Regions from separate parts of the Homo sapiens genome. Here region 2 is linked to region 1. The links come from fine-mapping of genetic effects on gene expression. A gene starts in region 1. The other region holds a variant in brackets. All regions are shown on one strand. Distances are between the middles of the regions. Region 1 holds the start of BEST3 (bestrophin 3). Region 2 holds the start of CPM (carboxypeptidase M).

Evidence for each region. PIP is the estimated chance that this variant, and not a neighbour inherited with it, causes the effect.
Region 2: its variant is fine-mapped to the expression of BEST3 in pancreatic islets (PISA, PIP 0.95).

What each region holds. Positions count from the first base shown.
Region 1 is chr12:69,696,199-69,705,822 of GRCh38, reverse strand. BEST3 (bestrophin 3) reads left to right here and starts at 6,520. Exons shown (of 10, transcript NM_032735.3): 1 at 6,520-6,618; 2 at 8,010-8,176. The coding sequence starts at 8,025.
Region 2 is chr12:68,926,858-68,936,481 of GRCh38, reverse strand. It overlaps CPM (carboxypeptidase M), which reads left to right and starts at 3,311. Exons shown (of 9, transcript NM_198320.5): 1 at 3,311-3,340; 2 at 3,642-3,804. The coding sequence starts at 3,645. RefSeq lists silencers at 2,932-3,041, 3,072-3,431. The variant G/A (reference allele first, on the strand shown) is at 3,715.

The DNA.
Region 1 (9,624 bases):
TTGGATTGCAGTGTGAGAGAAAGAGAGGAGCTGAAGATGACTTCAAGGTTCTAGACCTTTTGGAAGGAAGGAATGTTCAACAGAGATGGGAAAGGTTACAGATGGAGCACATTTGTGGGAAAAGGCCAGGAGTTCCATTTTGGGCATGTTGGGTTTGAGATGTTTATGGAAATATTAAGGTAAGTCTGGAGTTGGGTGAAAGATCTGAGCTGGAGGTATGAATTTGGAAGTGGCATCAAGTCTGATTTTTATTTCATTTATTTAATATGATTACATATTAAAATATAGATGTTACTTTTTAAAATATAAAATTATATGGAGCAAAAACTGAAGTTTTTTTCTTCCCCCCTTACTCCAAACCTACTACTCTCCCCAGCAGTAACCACTATTAAGGAGCTGTTATATGTTAAAGGACTGAAAAGATGTCTGAAGAATGCTCAATATACCATATTAGAAAACCAGAACCAGCCGGGCGTGGTGGCTCACGCCTGTAATCCCAGCACTCTGGGAGGCCGAGGCAGGCGGATCACGAGGTCAGGAGATCGAGACCATCCTGGCTAACACAGTGAAACCCCGTCTCTACTAAACATACAAAAAATTAGCCGGGCGTGGTGGCGGGCGCCTGTGGTCCCAGCTGCTTGGGAGGCTGAGGCAAGAGAATGGCGTGAACCTGGGAGGCGGAGCTTGCAGTGAGCCGAGATTGCACCACTGCACTCCAGGCCGGGCAACAGAGGGAGACTCTGTCTCAAAAAAAAAAAGGAAAAAAAGAAAACCAGAACCAACATGGGTTTTTCATTTCCACGTGCATTTTACTACACGAGAAAAGGTATTTTAGAATTGCCCACATATTTATGCATAGCATTTTTCTATTTACCTATATGTTGCCTTTACCCATACAGTAACATAATTTCCACTACCTTCTACAATCACAGTGGTAAAGTAACAGAATTTCACAGCTGTTTGGAATAAACAATATTCTTGAATTCATGTGCCTTTTCTTGTAAAATTAAGCTGATTTTTAATTGATTCTATGTGAAATTTTTTTTCTTTAGCAATCTGGAATGTATTTGAGATGAATAATACCATTCATTTTTAAAAAGTCATCAATTATAGAGTACAGGATACACATTCAGCACCATAATCATAATACTCTAGACTCTAAGCTTTCATCTCTAAAATAGAACAAAGTTTCCATACCTTCCATTAGAAAAAGATAACCTTCAAAATTTGAACTAGTGCATTTCTGTTTTGTTGAGTTAGCAATTACTCTATGCTAGGAAAGTAATGATGACTCCTCAAATATCCAGTCTCTTATGAGCTTAGAGCTTCAGCTGTAATAAAACGCAATAGTCTTTCTAGTCTGAGGAGTTCACTATATCTCCCCTGAAATCAAAGATAATAAATTAATTGAAGAGGTTTTCCATCCTCTTTGGTTTGATTTTTGGCACAGTTCTATGTCCAATGACATACACAGAAACCTCTGCACACCTGGAGTGCCACATGATTTACCCCAAACAGTGTTTGTTATGCAGCTGTTGGATCCATTGTTGCAAGCAGTAAATAGGAAAAAAAGAAAAAAAACAAGAAAGAGTAGGACATGAGTTCTCAAGAAGATCACCATCCAACTGGGCAAGTAAAAATTTACCTGTAGGAAAACATGATCACTATAATTGGTTCTGAAACTAACCAAACCAGTGTATTCTGCTGTGGAAAAAAAAAATGAGGACTGTTCTCTACGTTTTACTCTGAATTTTTCTTGAACTTTTAGCACTGTTTGCTATCTTTTTTCTAGAGAAATCCAGCACATAGCAACATAAGTTCCAGAAAGAAGTATTAACAGGAAAACTGACCACTAACCACAGGCTAATCATTCTTTTTTTTTTTTTTTTTTTTTTTTTTTTTTTTTGACGGAGTCTTGATGTGTCACCCAGGCTGGAGTGCAGTGGCACGATCTCAGCTCACTGCACCCTCCGCCTCCTGGATTCAAGCGATTCTCCTGCCTCAGCCTCCTCAGTAGCTGGGACTACAGGCATGTGCCACCATGCCTGGCTAATTTTTTTGTATTTTTAGTAGAGACGGGGTTTCACCACATTGACCAGGCTGGTATCGATCACCTGACCTTGTGATCTGCCTGCCTCAGCCTCCCCAAGTGCTGGGATTACAGGCGTGAGCCACTGTGCCTGGGCCAGACTAATCATACTTAATTCAGCAACTTTATTTTTTTATGGGCACATGGGCTCCCACTTGAAACTTGAGTTTGCATCCATTTTTGCTGGTAGAATGTTTTTATTTGCAGGATAAAATAAAACACATCAAAAGTTCATGGCATGTCATCAAGAACAGCATACCTGAACAAATTTGAGAATCATGTTCCATAATCTTTGTTCTTCATGAGCAAACAGACTCAAAGGACAAAGGAAGTGTCATATGATACTTCTCTTTCCTCCTCCTCCTCCTCTTGCCTCCTCCTTTTCCTCCTCCTCCTTCTCCTCCTCCTCTCGCCTACCCCTGCTCTTCTTCCCCTCCCTGCAGTGGTAGCTATCCCCTGGGCTCTCTCCCACCATCCTTCCTCTGCATTCCACCCACCCACCCACCCACCATCCCAGTTTATCCCAGAACAACCAAAATAACCTTCAAATTGATTCCCCTTCTATAGTCCCTACCCACTCCAATTCATCACACACTCTTCCCAGAGACTCACATTTCTGCAGCTCGGATTTTTTCGAACCCTTTCCCCATCAAAAACATTGATTGATTGCCCACTTAGTAATGTCCCAAAGTCTTAGGTTCAGAATCAAATCCTCCAAAATACAACGTCTGGTCTTTGGTTAATATTTGAATACATGTGTTATCTACACACAATTTATGTTCAACTAATCACTCAGAAGAAATTTGACAAGAGACTTCTCATGTCAGTGGAGACATGTCAAATCAGTTTAAAATGAATGTGGGGCTTTCTAAATAGCTGCTTCTCAAGTAGAAGGTGGTATTGGCTACGTAAACTTGTTGTTGTTACTATTTCCTGTTTCCTTAAGGAACAAAGAGATTTATTTTGACATCTATAGGTGAATATCAGGATTCCAAGTGGAAATGATTCCTTGTTCTTTTCTATGAATTGCCCTGTCATTGGAGGTTTACTGGAATCAAAGACAAATGTGCTACTCTGGACTGTTGAAAATCAGAGTGGTCAAAATCACATAACTTGATGTTTACTGTCAAGGGAAAATATGGCTGGTATAGTTATTTCATAGAGCCCTGAAATTGCCTAAGGGTCTATCATATCGTTTGCTATTAATTATAGGGTTAAAATATTTTCCACAAAAGTCTAGCAAGATTAACTTTATGCCAAATGATACCACCCCTCTAGTGTGGCAGGACAGAGTGCCACTGTCTTCTTTATATGTTGTTTTCCTTTTTATTTTTTAATAATCATATTTTACTTTTAGAATCTGGAAAAAAATTTCTAAAGAAACTTTAAAGTTCGATTTAAAAAGTGATATGAGCCTTCAACTTTGCAATCCGGTGTTTGTTGGATATTTTAAAATAAGCTTTAGTGGCTTGTCTCCTCTAAGCAGGGCTATTTCGACAAGGCCTCTTTCAGTACCTGTTAGAAATCACCACCAGATTCAGAGCTCAACAATGGGAGTTTGTTCATTCAATCTGATCATTATTGACTAATTTGCATTTAGAATGCTGTCTCCAACCATTAATTAGTCATTCCTCAAAACAACCCAATGGGAGAGAGGAACATAATTATCCCTGTTTAGAAATGAAACCAACCAACAGTGCGTTCAGTGCCCCACAGAGGCAGATCCCCTAGCTATGCAGTCATGGCTGCTGGGAATATGCCAGCTGTCAGGGCCACCACACAACCAATAGGAGATGCAAGAGTGAGAATTTTACAAAATACCTCCGATGTTCCTATTTCATAAGCATTTGGGTTTAGATTTGCTGAGATTCGTCTTGCAAACCTTTATAAACATAACATCAGATCTATCAGACCACTTTTCATGGCAACACAACATAAGATGTGCAACATTGTATATATGCTTTTTAAATGTTCACAAATTCCCTCAAATAACCAACAGAATTATAATAGTGAAGGTAAGGAATAATCAAACAGCAAATACATACTAAATATTCATTATTCACAGGGCTCCATACTGGAATTATGAACAGGGATGGGGGCAAGAAATTAAAAAGATACCTACAGCCCTGGCTTTGCTCTAATCTAAGGTACCTAGAATTTGATAAAGAATCCAGCGAAATGCATATAAAACTTACTGTTTTAGAAAAATTTAATTATATGTAATCTTAATTTTAGAATAAGCATTTTTTTCTATATCTTTCTCCACAAAAATACATTTTCTTTAAGTTAAGGTGCAAGGGTGCACAAGTTACTTTAGAAGGTTGGAAAAGTCCCAGGAATTGGCCCTGAAATTATTTATTTTATTACTTAAAGAACGCTGGTGAATTCTCTCTTTTAAGAAAGAAAATATGGGGCTGGGCGCGATGGCTCACGCCTATAATTCCAGCACTTTGGGAGGCTGAGGAGGGCGAATCACCAGGTCAGGAGTTCAAGACCAGCCTGACCAATATGGTGAAACTCCCTCTCTACCAAAAATACAAAAATTAGCCAGGTGTGGTGGGACACGCCTGTAGTCCCAGCTACTCGGGAGGCTAAGGCAGGAGAATTGCATGAACCCAGGAGGCAGAGGTTGCAGTGAGCCAAGATTGTGCCATTGCACTCCAGCCTAAGCGACAGAGTGAGACTGTGTCTCAAAAAAAGAAAGAAAGAAAGAAGAGAGAGAGAGAGAGGGAGGGAGGGAGGGAGGGAAGGAAGGAAGGAAGGAAGGAACGAAGGAAGGAACGAAGGAAGGAAGGAAGGAAGGAAGGAAGGAAGGAAGGAAGGAAGGAAGGAAGGAAGGAAGGAAAAGAAAAGAAAGAAACTATGCGCCGGGTGTGGTGGGCTCACACCTGTAATCCCAGCACTTTGAGAGGCCGAGGCAGGCATATCACCTGAGGTCGGGGGTTCAAGACCAGACTGACCAACATGGAGAAACCCTGTCTCTACTAAAAATACAAAATTAGCTGGGCATGGTGGCGCATGCCTGTAATCCCAGCTACTCAGGAGGCTGAGGCAGGAGAATCGCTTGAACCCGGGAGGCGGAGGTTGCAGTGCACCGTGATCGGCACCATTGCACTCCAGCCTGGGCAAGAAGAGCAAAGCTCCATCTCAAAAAAAAAAAGAAAAAATTTCCTAGCTGACCATGGAAGGATAACAAATGTGATGAATCTGGCCGGGTGCGTTGCCTCACGCCTGTAATCCCAGCATTTTGGAAGGCCGAGGCAGGCAGATCACTTGAGGTAAGGAGCTCGAGATCAGCCTGGCCAACATGGTGAAGCCTCATCTCTACCAAAAATATAAAAAATTAGCCGGTGTGATGGTGTGCACCTGTAATCCCAGCTACTTGGGAGGCTGAGGGAGGAAAATCGCTTGAACCCGGGAGGTGAGGTTGCAGTGAGCCAAGATCGTGCCACTGCACTCCAGCCTGGGCGACAGAGCGAGACTCCATCTTAAAAGAAAAAAAATGTGATGAATCCATGTGTTATTATTTCCCACTACACTAAGCCATCAATATATCATGATTCTCTATGTGTTCTTCTAACACACAAACACACACCACACACACACTAACACATAATCGTTGCTTTTAATTGAAGAACATTTTCAACACCTCTCAAGTGGCAAAAATCCTGTTTATATTCTTGTCTGCCCCAGTTTATGGCTTCATAAGAATTTTTTCATCTGTTTTTTGAGGCAGAGTCTCGCTCTGTCGCCCAGGCTGGAGTGCAGTGGTGTGATCTCAGCTCACTGCAACCTCCGCCTCCTGGGTTCCAGTGATTCTCCAGCCTTAACCTCCCAAGTAGGTGGGATTGCAGGAGCCCACCGCCAGACCCAGCTAATTTTTGTATTTTTAGTAGAGACAGCGTTTCACCATGTTGGCCAGGCTGGTCTCGAACTCCTGACCTCAGGTGATCTGCCTGCCTCAGCCTCCCAAAGTGCTAGGATTACAGGTGTGGGCCACCGCGTTCCAGCCCAGTTTTAAGAATTTAATCTTCATTTCAAGCACAAAAAGACTTTTTTTTTTTTTTTTTGGCTGGTGGGGCCTCTTTTTTGAACTCTTTAGGGCCAAATCAACCTTTCTTCCTTGATCCCAGGGTGGAGTCAAATGAATCTAACAGACAAACGGCCCAACATCCTTCATGTCACTGCCAACTTCTCATTCAAAGGGGTACTTGGGGTGGCAGGTGGAGTTATAATTATAGCTTAGAAAAAAGCAGCATCAGCAGCTGTTGCTTCTGTTTGTTCCCAGCTATAACTGTCATCAGTGGCTAAACTGGCATAAACAGGCCTCTACAAGTGGAAAAACATTTAACCCCTGTTCTTGTCACACTCTGGGTCCTCTCAGTGGCCAGAGAACAGAAAGAAAATCTGACTGTGCACGAGCGAAGGGTGACACCGGGCGTGCAGCACCGACCTGAAGGCACCTCTTCGGGGGAGCCCGAAATTTGAAGATTCTCTTTCCTGTCGGAGACTACAAACCAAATAAATAGGTTAGTGCCCAGAGTAAACCTATGCATTTTAATTCTGACCTCTACTTGCTGTGATTTTCATTTTCCTGGCAGAGCTTGAAAAGAAGAGTGAACTACTAAATGAAAGAAAGGAAAGTTAATTAAGGACTGTTATTTAAAACTACCGGGAGTCCATGAGAACAAATTATGAAATGGGTTTAATTTATTATGCTCCTCTCCCAATTTTGGCTGTATTCGCACTAGGCAAATAGACAAGGTAAAGATGGAAAAATAAAACCGGTTTTGTGGCATGAGTCCCATCCTTTTGTAATGCCACTTACTTGTGCCAAAAGGCCCTACCTTCTTTATTAAAATCAGTAATGTTGAAAGCTAAGTTTGTGATTTTAGAAAATGCTGTAAACGTAGCTCCAGAGTTTCATTTCCTTAGGGAAAATAGGCAAATCAGAGTTGAATTGTTTTTCCAGCAATGAGTAAAGATAGAAAATTTTCTTGTTTATGATAAAATGTGTGGTGTAGGCTACTTTACAAAAGAAATCTGCTACAGAATTTATTTTTTGTGTCTAGTACAATTCTATCTAAAAGCTTCATGATTTCAGTCTAAGTAGCTCTATAAGACTCTCCTCATAGATCCTTTTGAGAAAAGTAAGATTTTAAATAAATCTCATTTTATTTGCATATGTTCTATCTTAGCCAGAAATTGAGCAAGATTTTCAAAGATTAGCTTTGCGCTGTCTGTTTCAAAACCTGAATATTTAATGTCTTGGTGAAAAGTGGTGGAATTCCAAAGAACTCACCAAAAACAAGGCTTTTGGGCCCAGTGCTCATCCTAACCACATTCATGAAATGGACTCAAGTAGAAAGAGTTGTAAATAATGACCTCATTTTGTTCAACTCCAAAGAGAATGTGAACCATCCCTAAGCATTTATGTACAACTTGTCATGGGGAAACTGCACCATTCTTATTTATCACTATGACCCAACTTTTTGGCTGACTTTTGAAATGCAATGAGTGCTAACGATGCATTTGGACCTCCACTAGAGAGACATCTACATGCAATCAAACCCACCAAAAGTGCCCCATCAATTAAATTCTCACGAGGGCCTTGTTTGTCTCATTTGTTCATTCAAATATATATTGGCCAATGGCTATATAATCTAAAAATAATATTTAACAGTTAAGGCAAGTTTAAGATGTCTAATATTACTCTTCCCAGAGACTGCTTTCCTCCTGCTTTCTGCTAAACTGAGATAATGGTTATCTGAAAGTTCCGAATTATAGAAACTAAGAAAGACAAAACAGAGATATGGCTGACTAGTTGCTGGCTTGAATTTCCTTGATATACAGACATACAGATTTATGCCCTATTTTAAACATTGCTTTTTACTTGTGTTTTGTCTTCTTGCTCTTCTAGAAAAAACTATCCAAGATGACTGTCACTTACTCCAGTAAAGTAGCAAATGCAACTTTTTTTGGATTTCATAGGTTACTCCTCAAGTGGAGAGGCAGCATCTACAAACTACTGTACAGGGAATTTATTGTTTTTGCTGTTCTTTATACAGCAATAAGTTTGGTATACAGGTACTTTTCTTTACATGTCTCCTTAAATGGCCATCAGATATTGTGTAAGATACAGTCTCAAAAATCTGAACCTTTTGATTGCCACTGACTTCGCATTATGGAACTCCTTTTTTGCGTGAGCCTCTCATTTGTCTTCTTCCCCTCAGGACAGATTTTAATCCACCACTAACCATTGTTAGGTTGTAAAATAGACCCTCACTGTTAAGATTCAGGTGGCCTTCATTCCAGCCCCAGTTGTGCCTCGAGACTGTTGCAATAGGCACAAAATGGAAGGATTATCCTTAGATCTTTACTGTGTAAAGACTTTTGAATGGGCAAAGTCCACAGACAATAATTATTTGTGCTTCTGTCAACTTGTCATTCATAGTTGATGATTTGACAGCTTGTAGCAACTACCTATATAATCAACATGTTCATGATTGGTGTATGTCAGGGAAAAGCTTTCCTTCTTTTGGCCTGGAATGAAAATATCTTATCCAGGATGATGCCTGCCACACTTAACAGTACCTCAACTAAAGCAAAGGCCTGTAGAATAATTTATTTTCTTTCCGTTTTCTGAGTTGAGGGTATATTATGTTCACAAAAGGAGGTGCTTATTCTTTATAACATTACAACATATGCCTGTCAGATTGACAGGAAATTTGAGCAATATCAAGTCCAAGAAATATTTTTATGATGAAAAGTTATAGTCTTAATAAAATTTCATCAGTATGATAAAAGGGAAGACTTATGAGATTTTAAAGCTTTTTTTATTAAAATTGAATGCATAAATTTCTTCTCTGGAGGAAGCTAAAATTTAAAACAGGAAAGCTAAAGGTTTTTGAGGCTGTATTTCCATTTTTTCTATGTTCATAGTTTGTTATTTTTCTTCTGCATACAGATAAACAAATTTGTGTTTCATTGCTCTCACATTCTTCCTTGCAGCAACAGGATCTCCTTTGGAAAAGAGGGATATTAATGTAGTTGACTGATAATTATTAAAAGTAAAATAGGTACAGCTATTTTTCCACATGTCAAAACAACCCTTCCAAGCAAGTGTATGCATTGGTATATATCTTGACAAAATATTTTTAGAGGGAAAGTCCTATTAACAACCTCTAATAATTTTTCAGACATGTCATATAATATGATATTATTTTGGCAATTTAGGTAGGTATCACCTAAGCCTTCAGAATATGAAATGGTAAAAGATACAATGGTGTTTCGTGATAATTATCTCATTAGTTCATTTTTACTAATGTGAATTTATTGCTGCTACTTCTGCTAAGAATAGAACAGAATAGCCCTTAGTACAGTTGCAATGTAGCTAGAAATGTTCCTTGGGGCCTCAACTTTTGTTCCAATATCATACTTATACCCCACAACATTTTATGCATATATTTCTTCTAAAGCAGAGGGCTTACATTTATAACAAAAATTATCAGTTCAAGTCATCCTTAAATTTTTAA
Region 2 (9,624 bases), 770 kb after region 1:
AACCCGGGAGGTGGAGGTTGCAGTGAGCTAAAATTGTGCCACTGCACTCCAGCCTGGGCAACAGAGCAAGACTCTATCTCAAAAAAAAAGAAGAAAGAAAGAAGATCACCTCTAAAATCTCTAAACTTCAGTATTTTACTCTATTAGGCTAACCTTTTATTTTGCTGTTATCTTTCATACTCTTAACACTAAATTTTTTTTTCTCTCTTGACCAGTGCACCTTAAACTTGAATGTACATATACATCATCTGGAAATCTTATTAAAATGTGTGTTCTGATTCAGTAGGTTTGGAGTGGAGTGACAGATTCTACATTTCCAACAAGCTCCCAGGTGATGCCAGTGCTGTCCCTGGCCTGCACTCTGAGTTACTAGCTCCTAAACCTTCAGCACTCAGTCCTCTGTACCCCCTACCTCCATTCTCTGACTCCTTCCTGAAGTTGCCTCCCTTCCTACCTAGTGTGAACCCCAATGGCAGCAATTTCAACTATAGCTCATCTCTGTTTTTCCAGAACAACAATCCTGGCAATCTCCATTCCAGTATTGATGAAGCCACCATTTCTTCCAGTCTCCAGCCACAGCACCCTGCAGGAAATCAGATAGTGTCCACGTACTTCTCTTAAAAAGATAGGATTTCTAAGGTACATCAGCAAGCCTTCACTTTGTTCCCACCCAGTTCCCTTTCCCATTCCTAGAGTAACTTTGCCTAAATTTAATCTTCTCAAGCTCCAGTCCCCCTCCTCAGACCTCTTAGTCAATGAACAACAATGAAAGGGAAACGTCTTCAACCCTTCCAGTGGAAATAACATTTAGCATAGTGACTACTGCACAATTAAAAAAAAAAAAACCTACTCAAAGACTCTACAATGTCATACTAAGACTTCCAACTCTTAGGCCAGGCAAGGTGGCTCACTCATGTAATCCCAGCACTTTGGGAGGCTGAGGCAGAAGGATCACTTGAGGCCAGGAGTTCAAGACTAGCCTGGCCAACATGGTGAAACCTGGTCTCTATTAAAAATGCAGAAGTTAGGCATGTGTGGTGTAAAAATACAAAAGTTACGTAGGTGTGGCGATGCGTGCCTGTAATCCCAGGTACGTTAGAGGCTGAAACACAAGAATCGCTTGAACCTGGAAGGCAGAGGCTGCAGTGAGCTGAGATTGCACCACTGCACTCAAGCCTGGGCAACAGAGTGAGACTGTATCTCAAAACAAACAAACAAACAAACAAACAAACAAACAATAAAACAACTTCTCTTTAAGAAAAAAAAAAAGATGGCCAGGCACGGTGGCTCACGCCTGTAATCCCAGCGATCTGGGAGGCCGAGGCAGGCAGATCGCCCGAGGTCGGGAGTTCCAGACCAGCCTGGCCAACATGGTGAAACCCCGTCTCTACTAAAAATACAAAAATTAGCCGGGCCTGGTGGCAGGTGCCTGTAATCCGAGCTACTCGGTAGGCTGAGGCAGGAGAATTGCTTGAACCTGAGAGGAGGTTGCAGTGAGCCGAGATCATGCCATTGCACTCCAGACTGGGCAACAGAATTGAGACTCCATCTCAAAAAATAAAGAAAGAAATAAAAAATTAAAAAAAAAATTCCAACTCTTGGAAAATTCCCTTTAAAGAGTTACGAATTAAGCTGGTTTATTTATGTAATAAACGCTTCGCACAGTTCTTACAATGTGCCTGCCAACCTTATTTAGGTAGGTACAATTAAGACTTCCACTTTACACACCAGAAAATAAGGCACAGAGTCGACACAGCCACTGAGTGTCAGAGCAAGAATTGGCACTCATCCCGTGAGCGCCTCAGTTCTTTTTTTTTCTTTATATATACTTTAAGTTCTAGGGCACATGTGCACAACTGTGGCACATATACACCACGGAATACTATGCAGCCATAAAAAAGGATGAGTTCATGTCCTTTGTACGGACATGGATGAAGCTGGAAACCATCATTCTCAGCAAACTATCGCAAGGGCAGAGCGCCTCAGTTCTTAAACCACTCTTCTATGCTGCGGCAGAATCACTGGAAGTCTCAGGGAGTCCTGAGTGCGCAATTCTAGGAAAAGTATCTATATCTGTAAGAAAGAAGGGGCAGGGAATCTAACGGTTCTCAGCTCTTGAAGGCACATTAGATTCATTCAAGGTCCTCTCTAAAAATACACTTTCTTGGGCCTCCACGAGAAAAATTCTATTCAATTAGTCGTGGGCTTGCATCCGTATTTTTAGTCTGTAAAAGTGGAATGTTATCTCAAATCAGTGGTTTTCAAACTTTTTATATTCTGCGGACCTTGACACGGGCCCCCAATACCCTGACACGGTTACTTACAATCCGGGAGAGAGTGGGAGAAAGGGGGAGAGAGGGAAGGGGAGAGGGGGAGGGGAGAGAGAGAGAATGAATGAGAATGAATCTTTTAGAGAGGTAGAGGGGGTTGGCCCGTGCCACAAACCACCTCTCAGGTTTGAGTGAAGCCTTCGTTCTCTCTCGTGCAGAGACCATGCCATCCTTCCAGAAAGGAGCATTTTAGGACGTTTTAGGACGAGAGACCTGTAATTGGCCTAAGACTCAGGTGCAGGTGGAGGAAGCATCGGATTTACAACAGTGGTCCTGCCTTCTTCGATGTGACTTCCAGTTTTAAATTCAATTCTAATTTACACAAATCCCACCCACTATGTAAACTTGTTGGAAAATGTCCTGCACTCTGCACTTCGTGGCATTTAAAACTTCCACACACGCGCGCGTTCTTTCTCGAAGCCCCGTGATTGCTTAGCCTCGCTGGGCAGCTTGGCACTGCTGGGAGCTTGGCTCGCCCTGCCGGGGCCGACGCCGCCCGTCCCGCAGGAGCCCGCGCGGGGCTCAGGGCACTCAGGACTCCGCATGCGTCCCGGCTCCAGGTGGGCCCCGGCACCGCCAACCGCAGGAAACCCGCCGAGCCCTAAACGTCTCCCAAGCGGCTGCAGTCTGCGACAGAGAGTGTCCCTCGGTGGAGCGCCCTGTGGCTGCCCAGGCTACAGCCGTGGCCGAGGCGAGGACACACTTCTGACCTGGGGCTCCAGCAAAGACTGTCCGCGAGCGGCGACTCCATGCCCGCAGCCCTCCGCCCAGCTCAGCCGCCCGGCCGCGGGCACCAGCAGCCGCGCCACGAAAGGGCGCACCGCGCGGGCGCCGTCTCTCCTAGGTGCGAAGGCGGCTGAGGCCCCGCCCGGGAGGCACCCGCGCGGCTCCGGAGTGGGCCGGAGGGACGTCCGGGGGCGGGGCCCGGGCGCGCCCGCCCTCTGACCGGGCTATAACACCCGGCCCCGCCGGGCGGCCGCGGGTGGGTAGAGGTGCGCGCCTGGGACCTGGTGAGGCTGGGGGTGCGCGGGGCCGGGCGCAGCTGTGGCAGCTGCCGGACGGCGGAGGCGCCAGGAGGAGGAGGAGAGGGAGGCGCGGGCGGCTGGGTCGAGGGCACCGAGGCTGCCCGTGCTCCCGGTCTCTGGTTGCACGGCTCACTCCCGAAGGTGTTGCTTCCAGCTTTTGCCTCCTTAGGAGGCAGGGAGCGTCAGTGTCGGGAGACCCTGAGACCGGAGTACCGAGACGTAGCTGGTGATGCCCCCGCCTGCCCTCATGTGTTCTCAGGTTCTTCTTATTTTTATTCATCTCTAGAACATGGACTTCCCGTGCCTCTGGCTAGGGCTGTTGCTGCCTTTGGTAGCTGCGCTGGATTTCAACTACCACC[G/A]CCAGGAAGGGATGGAAGCGTTTTTGAAGACTGTTGCCCAAAACTACAGTTCTGTCACTCACTTACACAGTATTGGGAAATCTGTGAAAGGTAGGGTCCGTCTCGTGAACACTTTGCCAAACCCTCAGTCCTCCCTTTCAGTATTCATTAAATATGCCCCAGCTTCCTGTCTGCTCTTCCACGCACCTACTCTGAGTGGCACAGAACAAGTCAACCGGTACCGTGCGTGTTGGTTGTTTTCTGCTTTTGTTGGGAGGAATAGTAGGAAGAACTGAATTTTACTGGACTTGTCCATTGTAATTCAGTGTCACTGAGTCCTTTCCATTATTGGAGTTCTTCTGTCTTTTTGGATCTTGCAGACATTGGTTATTTGGGATGTATGTTTTAGTTCCTTTTCAAGATAAACTCCCAAGTAAGTCCGTTTATCCGTTTCAGTTCCCCTTTGTGTGGGCTTCTTTATATATGACTTGGACTGTTAATGTCATTTCTTCATGTCTCTTTTAAACTGAAATAATGCAGTTTTGTTGGTAAGATTTCTGTGTCATCTGTAGTTAGCCTTTTATTTAAAGTTATGCAAAACTATCATTTCTGCAAGTTTCTTTTAATCTAAGTAGTACAGTTCTGTTGGTTAGATTTGTGTCGTGTATAATTAGCCCTATGGCTTAAAGTTATGCAAAAAAGTGGTTCTATGATTAAAGGCTGTTTTTAAAATGTATCCATTTGAAGAAGACAATGCTAGATAATGAATATATATTAGTAGTGATTGAAACTCTTCCCAGCATTTTCATATTTATCATTAATAATTTATTGTTCTAAGTTAGAAACTACATAAAGTTATTTTCATTTTTATAGACAGCAAGTTTGAATCAGATAAATTAAATAATTTGTTCAAGGTCTCCCAGATGGTGAATTTTATAGCCAGGACTGGCACCCATCCGGCCAAGGCAAATAATTTGATCAGATATCGTTATTTCATCTTTCTTTCTTTCTTTCTTTCTTTCTTTTTTTTTTTTTTTTTTTTTTGGTCAGAGTCTCGCTCTGTTGCCCAGGCTGGAGTGCAGTGGCGTGATCTCGGCTCACTGCAACCTCCGGCTTCCTGAGTTCAAGCAATTCTCCTGCCTCAGTCTCCCGAGTAGCTGGGATTACAGGAATGCGCCACCACAGCTGGCTAATTTTTTTGTATTTTTAGTAGAGATGGGGTTTCACCATATTGGCCAGGCTGGTCTCAAACTCCTGACCTTGTGATCCTCCTGCTTCGGCCTCCCAAAGTGCTAGGATTACAGGTATGAGCCACCGTGCCCGGCCGAGATACCATTATTACTTAATCATCTTTTATTATCCTGATGTTCCCAAAGAGGTTACCAGAAAACTTAGTCCTTAAATCAAAAGTTTCATAAATTTTATGCAATTTGGATCTCAACTTTTTGTAAGGTGTGTTCAAACTCTACCTTGATTTTAGCTCTGAACTTTTGAGTCAATTGAGAGTCTCATAATTACCATATTCTTCATCATTTTTCAAAAAAATCAAGGCTATGGCTTCTATATTAAAGAAAAAGTATTATATAAATGTATTTATGTGCAATGCGAAGTCAATATCCTGGGCTGTGTGTAATAGTAACTTTGTTTTTAAACAGCATTGCCAAAGAGATGGTGCCAGAATTACTCTATATTGCTCTATAATCCAAAATTATAGAGGTTGGGTGTGTGAGAAATCATATCTTGAATCAGCATACGTATTCAGCCTTCTGAAATCATTTTTCCCTAGGGCTAGAGTAGAGCAATTTAAAAAGATCTAGGAATACTAATTATATTAATTAAAAATATATAGAACACAACTAGCTTGAGTTATTGTTCAGTCATCATTTCAACCACAAGATGATGAGGATGTTGTTAATTTTAAGTACTAAGTGATTTGGTAAGGTTTTGTATTTTCAAACACAATGTGCTTGTGACAGTTGGGGGCTCTCTTTCCTAATATGAATCAGCAGTTGTGATCTATCCTGCATGATATCAAACCACAATCACAGTGAAAGTCAGCAGGCTTAATTTTGTTTTTAATTTTACCTTGTATGCACTCTTGCGGTTAAAGGCTTGAGGAGTTATCATGTAAAAATAAAATCTGACACTAGTGGTTAAATATTTGTGTTGAATATGTTGTTCTGAATAATAACTCGGATTAAGAAAAATCCCAAATCTGCCATTTGGCTCCAACTGGTAGATGAAACTGTATGCCAGTAACTGGGAGTCAGTTGCCAAAGTGTCACTGCACATTAGTGTGACAATTGAGAGATGGTGCTCCTTTGTTGGTGGTCTTTTTCACTAGATATTTTCCCTAACCATTCTGCCCTCTGATGTAAGATAAGTTTGCTTAGAAAACAGAATTTATGACCAGGCCCAGTGACTCATGCCTGTAATCCCAGCACCTTGGGAGGCCGAGGCGGGAGGATCACCTGAGGTCAGGAATTTGAGACCAGCCTGGCCAACATGGTGAAACGTTGTCTCTACTAAAAATACAAAAAATTAACCAGACATGGTGGTGTGCACCTGTGGTTCCCGCTACTAGAGAGGCTGAGACCGGAGAATAGCGTGAACCCAGGAGGCAGAGGTTGCAGTGGGCCAAGATCATGCCACTGCACTCCAGCCTGGGTGACAAGAGTGAAACTCTATCTCAAAATAAAAGAAAATAAACAGAATTTATTATACACGTGTTATTTATTTATTTATTTATATTACATGTATTAACGTGGGCAGTCTTACCCAGAAGGGAAAGTAATATTCCTAAGTAACTAAATACATGTTTAGTTTTTGTAAAAACTTAAATATATGTGCTATGCCTATGTAAATATATGCATATCACATATTTTCTTTGTTGTAATTGTGGATTATATTCTGCTTGTTTTTTCATTTCATGTTATTTCCTTAGATATTTCCATGAATTGACAAAGTCGGTAGATGTGAATTCGTTGCTGTTTAGTATTCTATCCTCTTGATTATGTGAATTTTCTTAGTCATTCACCTCTTTGAGCATCTGTATAGTTTTTGGTTAACTCTGTTATAAACAGGGATACTATAAAACCATTGATACATGTCATGATAATTACCTTCTATTATTATTGGTGATTTTTAAAAACGTTTTTATTTTGAAACTTTTAAAATCCACACAAAAGTTAAACACATCTATACCCAGCTTCAGCCATAGTAGACCATATTTCAGTTGAGCCTTTTGAAGGAAATCCCACTGCCTAGTGACATAGTAAAGAAAATCTTAGGTGAAACAAGAGAAGCAAAAAAGTACTGATGACTTAGTTCAGAAAAATCAGAAAAGGTACAGTGTTCATCAGTTCGTTCGTTCAATCCTCCGTTCAATTAAGGAAGCACCTCCCATTTTTTGCCCCAACCCCTTTGTCTAGAAGGATGCCTGGCACATAATCAATAATCTATATCTATTTATTTAATGGATCAAATATTTGCTGAGCAAAAGGCATGGGAAGCAAACAAACGTGTGTGTCATTCATTCCCTGCCATTAGGTAGCTCATTTTCAAATACAAATGTATTTACTGTGAATTTCTCAGGGTAGTCTCTCCACACACACCCCAAAATTAGTTTAGGAACATTTTATTATTTTTTTAAAAAATGAACCCTTGTGTTGAGGGTTGACTATCAATAGATAGCAATGAAAGAACTGCTCTGCTACATACAAAACCCCAAAGGGCCATTTTAAATGAGATTTCCTACCATCTATTTTAAGAATCTTGCATTGACTGGGTGTGGTGGCTCACGTCTATAATCCCAGCACTTCAGGAGACCAGCCTAGGCAACATGGGAGACTCCATTTCTTAAAAAAAAAAAAAAAAATTTAATTAACCAGGCATAATGGTGCATGCCTGTGGTCCCAGCTACTTGGGAAACTGAGGCAGGAGAATCACTTGAGCCTGGGAGTTCAAGGCTGCAGTGGGCCATGATCGTGCCACCGTACTCCAGCCTGGCCTACAGAGCAAGACCCTGTCTCAAAAAAAAAAAAAAAGTATCTTGTCTTGCCTCCTGCTAAGTCTGATCATCATTGTATCTGAATACAGTAGGCGGGATAATAACACCTTCCTTACTAGTGATAATACTATTAGAGATTTTTTAAAGCCAGCCAAATTTAGTAGTCTCTGTTATCAAGTACTTTCCATGTAGTAAATAGTTTAAGACATTATTTCGATCTCAGCAACTCAAAGTAGGCCTTATCCTCATTTACAAAACAGGTAAAATGAGGCACAGAGAGGTTAATTAACTTGCTGAAGATAACATAGCTAAGTATTAGAAGATTCAAACTCAGATCTGCCTATTTCCCAAGCACCTCTCTATTCTCTTTTAAAAAGCAGCTTGACATTTAAGTCTTTAATCCATCTTGAATTAATTTTTGTATAAGGTGTAAGGAAGGGATCCAGTTTCAGCTTTCTACATATGGCTAGCCAGTTTTCCCAGCACCATTTATTGAATAGGGAATCCTTTCCCCATTGCTTGTTTTTCTCAGGTTTGTCAAAGATCAGATAGTTGTAGATATGCGGCGTTATTTCTGAGGTCTCTGTTCTGTTCCATTGATTTATATCTCTGCTTTGGTACCAGTACCATGCTGTTTTGGTTACTGTAGCCTCGTAGTATAGTTTGAAGTCAGGTAGCATGATGCCTCCAGCTTTGCTCTTTTGGCTTAGGACTGACTTGGCAATGCGGGCTCTTTTTTGGTTCCATATGAACTTTAAAGTAGTTTTTTCCAATTCTGTGAAGAAAGTCATTGGTGGCTTGATGGGGATGGCATTGAATCTATAAATTACCTTGGGCAGTATGGCCATTTTCACGATATTGATTCTTCCTACCCATGAGCATGGAATTGTTCTTCCATTTGTTTGTATCCTCTTTTATTTCATTGAGCAGTGGTTTGTAGTTCTCCTTGAAGAGGCCCTTCATGTCCCTTGTAAGTTGGATTCCTAGGTATTTTATTCTCTTTGAAGCAATTGTGAATGGGAGTTCACTCATGATTTGGCTCTCTGTTTGTCTGTTACTGGTGTAAGACTTAAACGTTAGACCTAAAACCATAAAAACCCTAGAAGAAAACCTAGGCATTACCATTCAGGACATAGGCACGGGCAAGGACTTCATGTCTAAAACACCAAAAGCAATGGCAACAAAAGCCAAAATTGACAAATGGGATCTAATTAAACTAAAGAGCTTCTGCACAGCAAAAGAAACTACCATCAGAGTGAACAGGCAACCTCCAAAATGGGAGAAAATTTTCGCAACCTACTCATCTGACAAAGGGCTAATATCCAGAATCTACAATGAACTCAAACAAATTTACAAGAAAAAAACAGACAACCCCATCGAGAAGTGGGTGAAGGACATGAACAGACACTTCTCAAAAGAAGACATTTATGCAGCCAAAAAACACATGAAAAAATGCTCACCATCACTGGCCATCAGAGAAATGCAAATCAAAACCACAATGAGATACCATCTCACACCAGTTAGAATGGCGATCATTAAAAAGTCAGGAAACAACAGGTGCTGGAGAGGATGTGGAGAAATAGGAACACTTTTACACTGTTGGTGGGACTGTAAACTAGTTCAACCATTGTGGAAGTCAGTGTGGCGATTCCTCAGGGATCTAGAACTAGAAATACCATTTGACCCAGCCATCCCATTACTGGGTATATACCCAAAGGACTATAAATCATGCTGGTATAAAGACACATGCACATGTATGTTTATTGCGGCACTATTCACAATAGCAAATACTTGGAACCAACCCAAATGTCCAACAACGATAGACTGGATTAAGAAAATGTGGCACATATACACCATAGAATACTATGCAGCCACAAAGAATGATGAGTTCATGTCCTTTGTAGGGACATGGATGAAATTGG